Homo sapiens: one gene and its partner. The protein of the gene in region 1 purifies or fractionates together with the protein of each later gene. This does not show direct contact. Each region holds a gene or a part of one and is shown on either strand. Other genes may lie near its edges.

Evidence for each region.
Region 2: the proteins of TRIM2 (region 1) and KLHL5 purify together in Homo sapiens (affinity purification with mass spectrometry; one large-scale study listed by BioGRID and IntAct). This does not show direct contact.

The regions. Positions count from the first base shown.
Region 1 is NC_000004.12:153,210,846-153,214,673, reverse strand, and holds part of TRIM2 (tripartite motif-containing protein 2), read right to left. Parts: intron 1-3,828. UniProt on the Homo sapiens protein: UBE2D1-dependent E3 ubiquitin-protein ligase that mediates the ubiquitination of NEFL and of phosphorylated BCL2L11. Plays a neuroprotective function. May play a role in neuronal rapid ischemic tolerance.
Region 2 is NC_000004.12:39,082,719-39,086,546, reverse strand, and holds part of KLHL5 (kelch-like protein 5), read right to left. Parts: intron 33-3,828; coding exon 1-32.

The DNA of each region.
Region 1 (3,828 bases):
CTTGGTCTAAGAAATACGAAAGAGGCATGTGTTCAGTCAAAAGTGCAACATAAACCTTAGTTGCTGTTGTCGTTATTCATAATGATGAAAATGATGTGGAACGCTGAGAGGCTGCTTTGGACAAAAATTTTCCGTAGGGTAAACAGTTCTGGTTCCAAATTTTCTTTATTGTTTCTTTTGTTCCAAGATTCTGAGTTACAAAAAGCAATTTTACAGATACCTGATACTGTCTTCAGCATATTAGATAGTTCCTCTTAAATAAAACTTGCATTTTAAAATGGACAGAAAAGAGTTTGACCCTCTTAATCTCTTAAATCCAAGCTCTCCTCAACACTATGCAGGTTATTGGAGGCTATGCTGGTCAGGTTTTACTGCCCAGGGACTTAGAGGGGCATCTCCATTTATCAGTGGCTTATCTAACTTTTAGAGTCCTTGATCAATTACACAGTGCTCATGGAAATGCAAATGAGCATGATCAATCAGTGTTATTGAAAAGCACTTTTGTAAGATGTATCAAAAACCTTTTAAATGTTTATATCTTATGCTCTAGTAATTTCACTTTAAAAATCTTTCTTCTTGAGGTACAATCAGAGGTGTGGTCACAGATATTGTCTAGACACTATCATAAGAGTACCAGCTCTGGGTTTCAATGCCAGCCCATCCACTTTTTTTTTTTCTTTTTTCCTCACTATGTCTTATGGTGCTAAGCTGCCACTTTCTAATTGTGCAATCTGGAACAAAATATGTAGCCAACTGTCCTGTGCCTCGTTTCCCTCTTCTGTTAAATGGTAATAATAGTAGGTTTGTTACAAAGATTAAATTCGTTAAATAGTAATAATAGTAGGATTTGCCAGGCACAGTGGTTCACACCTGTAATCCCAGCACTTTGGGAGGCCGAGGCGGGTGGATCACCTGAGGTCAGGAGTTCAAGACCAGCTGGCTAACATGGTGAAACCCGTCTCTACTAAAAATACAAAAGTCAGCCAGCCATGGTGGCATGCACCTGTAATCCCAGCTACTTGGAAGGCTGAGGCAGGAGAATTGCTTGAACTCGGGAGGCAGAGGTTGCAGTGAGCCAAAATCGTGCCACTGCACTCCAGCCTGGGCGACAGAGCGAGACTCTGTCTCAAAAAATAAATAAATAAGTAAAAAATAATAGTGGGATTGCTACAAAGATTAAATTAATTAAGATGCATAAAGAACTTGAAACAGAGCCCATCACTTTGTTAGCGATTCGACAAATGTTAACTATCATTATAAGCTATTATTGCAAAAACATTCATTGCTGTATTATTTGTGATAGAAAAAAATTGAAACAAGTTAAATGAACAGAAATAGAAGCATGAAGACATATTTTTGCACATTCATGCAAAAGAATATAATGTACCCTGGAGGCATCACATAATGGTTAAAAACACAGGCTCTGGAAACTGAATGCTGGCCTGCCCCTGACCAGCTGTGCGGCTTGGGACAATTTTCTCAACAATCTGAGCCTCAGTTTCCTCACCTGAAAATGGAGAAGAACAGTAATAGTGGGCTGACTGGCTCATACACATAAAGCACTTAGAACAGTTCCTGGCACACAGTCATTGCTTCATCAGTTAGTCTCTCCACTTACAGTCAAGTTGGTAGCCTGGCAGACTGGTGATATCTCATGCACACAAAGCTTCCCAGGCAGTAGCTGTGAAAGTACATGCCCTGGTAGGAGATGAACTGAACAAAGCCTAAATTTCCCTTTGTATGAATAGACAAAATGACTGATGCAAGCCCAGGCCTGGAGGCTACGTGCACAACCACCATGCAAAGGAACTGGAAAGAGTTGTTTCACTGCAGTACCAGAACAGACTGCTTTGATTAAGAGAAAAAAGAAAAGGGAATAAAGAAGACAGGCCCCCAAACAAAACCACCCACCAAAGCCACAAACAAGACTTGGCAAGAGAAAGGAGCTGAAAAGGCTTTCCTAAATCTCCAGTCTGCATCCACCTCTTTTCTTTTTCTTTCTTTTTCTTTTTTTCCTAGAGACAGAGTCTCACTTCGTTGCCCAGGCTGGACTGCAGTGGTGCAATCACAGCTCACTGCCTCGAACTCTCAGGCTCAAGCAATTCTCTCTCCTCAGCCTCCTGAATAGCTGGGACCACAGGCATACACCACCACGAGTGCAGCTTTCTTACATGGAAATATTGCGTAATGGTGAAGTCTGGGCTTTTAGTGTACTCATCATCTGAGTAATGTACATTATATCCAATAGGCAATATTTCATCCTTTATCCCCTTCCATCTTCCCACCTTTTGGAGCCTCCAATGCCTATTATTCCACTCTCTATGTCCACATATACCCACTGTGTACCTCCCACTTATAACTGAGAACATGCAGTTTTTGGCTTTCTGTTTCTGACTCATTTCACTTAGGATAATGGCCTCCAGGTTCATCCATGCTGCTGCCAAAGGCATGATTTCATTCTTTTTATGGCTGAGTAGTATTCCATGGTGTATATGTACCACACTTTAATCATCATCTGTTGACAGACACTTAGCTTGATGACTTTGCTAAAGGACAGCTTTATTTCTCATAAGGGTTGAAGCCTGCAGAGAGGCCATTCTGACAGGCTGGGAAATGTAGCCTACCGCCAGAAGCTAGAAGCAAGCACTTCCTCCTCACTGAGTTTTTGAAAGACTAAGGGAAAGAGAATAGAGAAGGGATATTTCCATCTACCGGGGAAAAGATGTGCAGTAACAAACCATCTTGGGAGACAGCCTTCTCACAGATTTAGAAAAGTATATTTAAATTTTGATGAAACTTTTCAAGTATTAAAGTTTGAGTTACAAGCACAAGAGAGGATAAAACAAATCCAAGCAGAGATTCAAATTGTCATATAAGAATTTGTAGGCTGGGTGAGGTGGTTCATGCCTGTAATCCCGCACTTTGGGAGGCCCAGGTGGGCAGAGTATTTGGGCCCAGGAGTTCAGAGACTAGCCCAGGCAACATGGTAAAATCCCATATCTACAAAAAAATAAAAAATAATTAGCCAGGCATGGTGGTGCATGCCTGTAGTCCCAGGTACTTGGGAGGCTAAGGTGGGAGAATCACCTGTCTGGGAGGTGAAGGCTGCAGTGAGCCATGATTGCACCACTGCACTCCAACCTGGGCAACAGTGTGCAACCCTGTCTCAAAAAAAAAAAAAAAAAGAAAAAGAAAAAACAAAAAAGCAAGCAGGCAAGCAAAAACAAACAAACAAATGAACTAAGATCTGCTCCCATGTTACCCCACCTTGCTCCTAAAGGTTGGATGTAGTTTCTTTTATCAAGGAGCAGGTTTACAACCAGCCTTGGAAGCCTGGAAGGTATTGAGATGTTTCTCTGACCCAGTAACCCCAATTCCTAGAAAGGACAGGGATCAGCAGTCACTACACTCTTCTTCCACCCAGCCCTGTCCAGAGCTGACCTCAGGTTACCTCACTGTCAGCAGCACCCCCTTCCTCAAGGACCCTGCCCCCAAAACCACACCTGGAAGCTTGAGACACCACCAGGTCGGTGTGCAGATGGCCGCTATGGATTCCTAGTGAGCATGGCTTGTGAGAAAAAAAGGCAGCCTCATATTGGAAGCCTGTGTTTCCTGAATGCCCCTGGACAGTGATGAGGAGGGGTGGGTAGGCTGCCATTGCCCCATCCCCTGTCTCCTCCCAGCCCTCCAGTGACAGCTCAGACAATGGTGCCCTGCATGTCTGGGTTTACTGCATGTGTTGAGTGTGGGAAGAGGGCTGCTTTTTTCAGATCTTGTCACTATCCTTCCTTGTCACAGTTCCAACACGGCTTCTGGGGCTTCTAGGGT
Region 2 (3,828 bases), about 110 Mb from region 1:
TCCTGGTTTCTGATTACTTCCATGAAATGCTCCTAGAGGGAAGAAATAGCAGATAAACAATATTGTTCCTTCTGACCTTCACAATTTACTTAGAAGAAAGTAAAAGCTTTTTATATTAGCTACCAACACACAATTTATATTTTAGACCTTACAATGTAATACTTACTTGTTAGGAAAGAAACACAGCAGAGAAAAAAAAATTAAACTGCAATTATGTTGTTAAACATATGCAAGTAGAATTAAAGTGTTGTATCACTTATTACATTTAAAAAATGGACCTAGGACATTTAAGTGTTACTTCACTCAAGTTAGGAAATACTTTTGGCAATTCTTTTGAAGGAAGAGAGAAATAATGAATTAGACACTGAGATGTATGATACTCTAACACCAGAAGTGGGTGGATTTGCGGTTTGGATTTGTGGGTGCTGAAGAATTCGGCCAGCAGTGGAGCCAAATACCTAGAGAGCTTGGTTACTTCTCTTACTAAGAAATGGCCTCCAGAGTGGCTACATTTCCCAGAATCATTCTAGACCACAGATGTCTTCTCAGATCCTCCCTGGAATGAGTATTTGTTCTTAGAGTTATACGACAGTCAAATCGGTCTTCAAGATCGTTTTAATGATATTTATAAGATCATCTAGGATTTTGGGTCTGTTTTCGAATTTTTAATCTCTTTTAAGGGTCTGTTTTTAAATTTTTAATCTCTTCTAATATAATTTATTTACAAAGCTCTTTTGGTCTCACAGGAAAAAGGACCAAAGGTGGAAAAAAAAGTAGTGACCTATAATGCCCTGGGATCAGGACATTAGACTGAAGATGACTCAGTCCTGGCCTCACGTTAGAATCAAATCCTCTATAATTTGAAATGGGAAATAAAAATGCCCTTAGGTGTGAGATGACCTTGATAGGCTATTATGCTAAATAATCTGGAGAGAAGGAAAACATACCATCTGATTTGAAAGGTTTTAAGTCTTAATGAATGGATAGTTGACACGGTTATAAATGCAAATACTAGACACATATTGTCCCTTAATGTTTTTCTCATATTTCCTGATGTATTATCGCTGTCTCAGCATGCAGAGGTTTACTAAAGAAGCTAAAGCTGTTTAAATTAGAGCTAGAAATAAGGACTATCAATAACTATCTTCTATATTAAAATGAGAATTATATTTTCCATATAGCCTGTGGTAACCTGAGTGAGGTACTAATCTAAAATATATATTAGCTTGACATTCCTATCAGTAGAAGTTCTAAAGGGGAAAACCATTCATGAATAATTAATGAATTTCAATTGCTTCAATTTATCATGATTTGTTCAAGGATGTCTAAATGAGTCTATTTTAAATGATGGATTATCATTTTCAGAAACATATTTTAATAAAACTTCAGTGCTAGAATGGCTTCAAGCAAAAGGTTCTATTGAATTGCATACTGACATTATTTTGGTAACACATAGCAAGATCTACAAAAATGTTGAAACTCTCAACCCAGTTATCCCACTTGTAATTTAAACCTTAATAATAATTTGTAAGCAAAAAGCAAAGCTGACTACCTAACAATACTTCTCTGTATTATTATTTACAATGGTAAAAAATGGGAAATAGCCTATATGTTCAGTTATAGGGAGCTGTATATTAAATAAGCATTAAAAATTTCAAAGACAAAGATCACGTAGGTACATGGAAAGGTACTTATGATAAAATGTTATGTGAGATTGTGAAGAAACTGAAATAATAATATATATTTCCAATTCCTTAAACATATAAAGTATAATTGACAGATTTATACATTGGTATAACTATGCCATACTTTCAAATGGCATTAATTGGATTTCATCAGTAACAAAAGGACTATCACGTAAATATGCACTTGACGAATTATTTGTTGATATATCTATTTCAGAATAATGCCCATTCCATTCTAGTATAACTTACATTAAGTGAAAACTGAGTTTTTCAACAACTTATGAAATACTACTGAACTCAAGGTTGAATACAAAGTATTTTTCAAAAGTATTAATTTGGTTTTGAAGCAGCTACTTTAGCAGATCTCAATGTTTTTTATAAGTCTTCTAGATTGAGAAAGACAATTTTAAGTTTTAAAATTAAATGTTTTTATTTGTGTCATAAATTCAAAATGACATTAAATAGTTGTAATCATACAACCAGTCTTAAGACTTTTTTAGAGGTTACATGACTTGCTCCAGGTCATGTTCAGTGGCAGGCAGAATGAGAAAACAGGTTTCCAGATTCATGGATCCTGGAGAGGACTCCTCATTTTTTACCACTTGTATTCGTGCAGGATCAGTGAACATCCCCAGTCCACGCACCATTCACTGATTGAACTCACTGGCGTGGCATTATGCTTTACATTTTAAATCCATATTATAATATACACAACTATCATGTTACCAAACGCTTGCTAGCATTGTGACCTTTCCCCCTTTGGAATAGTTTTTAGGCAACTGAAATTACGGAGGGATTTATTTAAATTGAAGATTGAATTTTGCTATACATTTTCATTTGGTTCCCATAGCAACAATTCAAATCAGACAAGCTGCCTCTAAATTACTTATTGTTATTAGAATTCAATTTCATGTCTCTGTTAAAACTGAATAATGTTAAATAATGGCCTTGAGAAAAAAAATCTAACACAACTAATTGGCTATGAAAATAGCTTTAAAAACATCCAGCTAATTTAAATTTAATTTCTGTGTAAGCCTTAAAGCAGCAATCATGCCTCTACTGTAAACAACAGGAGTGACCTAAATGCATACAAATGTTTTCACCTGAATAAAACACCTTCCTAGAAAAAAGATGATTATTCAAATTCTAAACTGATTTTGAAGAAAAAAATCCAACTTTATTTATATTCATCTCATTCAAAAAAGTAGTTGAAACTGCAGGTGTATGGTTAAAATGAGAATCTATAAAGAGTGATAAAGACCGAGGGAAAAAAACATTTCAATGGACTTAATTTTTAAAATGTCAACATAATAGCATGCTAGGGCTATATATTATCATCCTGTTGTACAATCTCTTTATTTTTTCAGTTGAGACTCTGTGACTATCATAAAAAATTCCTGAGAAATGATTACACCACAGGGAGGAAAACCAGTCATTAAAGGCTGTGGTTTTGTGAGTGCTTTTGTTCCCTCCCATAATTTTCTATTGTTTTGGATAGAGGAAATCTATATAATGATGATGACAACAATGGAATGAGACTCACTGACTGGATATATGACATGCCAATCAATGTTCTGAGTGTTAAAATTCCATTAACTCATCTAATCCTCACACCAAGCTCATGAAGTAGACAGAATTGATCTTGCCAATAGTTTGTAAATACCTATTCTTACAATTTTTCCAAATCTCTATTTCTCTAATGAAAGATTCCTAAAGCACTCTCAATCTCTTCATATCCCAACTCAGTGGAACGACGGAGGAGAGGGTAGGCAAAATAACATTTCTTAAATGTTGATAAAATTGGTAATATCCATAACTGTACATATGTATGTGAATATTCACATTTTTTCTTCTCTTAGAAACTGTATTGCCCTAAACTGAAGCATTTAAAGCAACACTCTTCAGTCATTGCCCAGGTGTGAAGAACTAACTGCTACAGTGTGGCAACATTCCTCAAAAACCCATAACACCCTCCCTTGCCTGCACCCCTCTACTGTTAAGACCACAGAGGGTGGTCCTAACACTATGCTCTCAACATGCCCTTATTTTCTTACTATCCTAGGTCAATCCATTTTTTAACTTTTAAGTTCAGGGGTACATGTGAAGGTTTGTCATACAGGTACACTTGTATCATGGGGGTTTG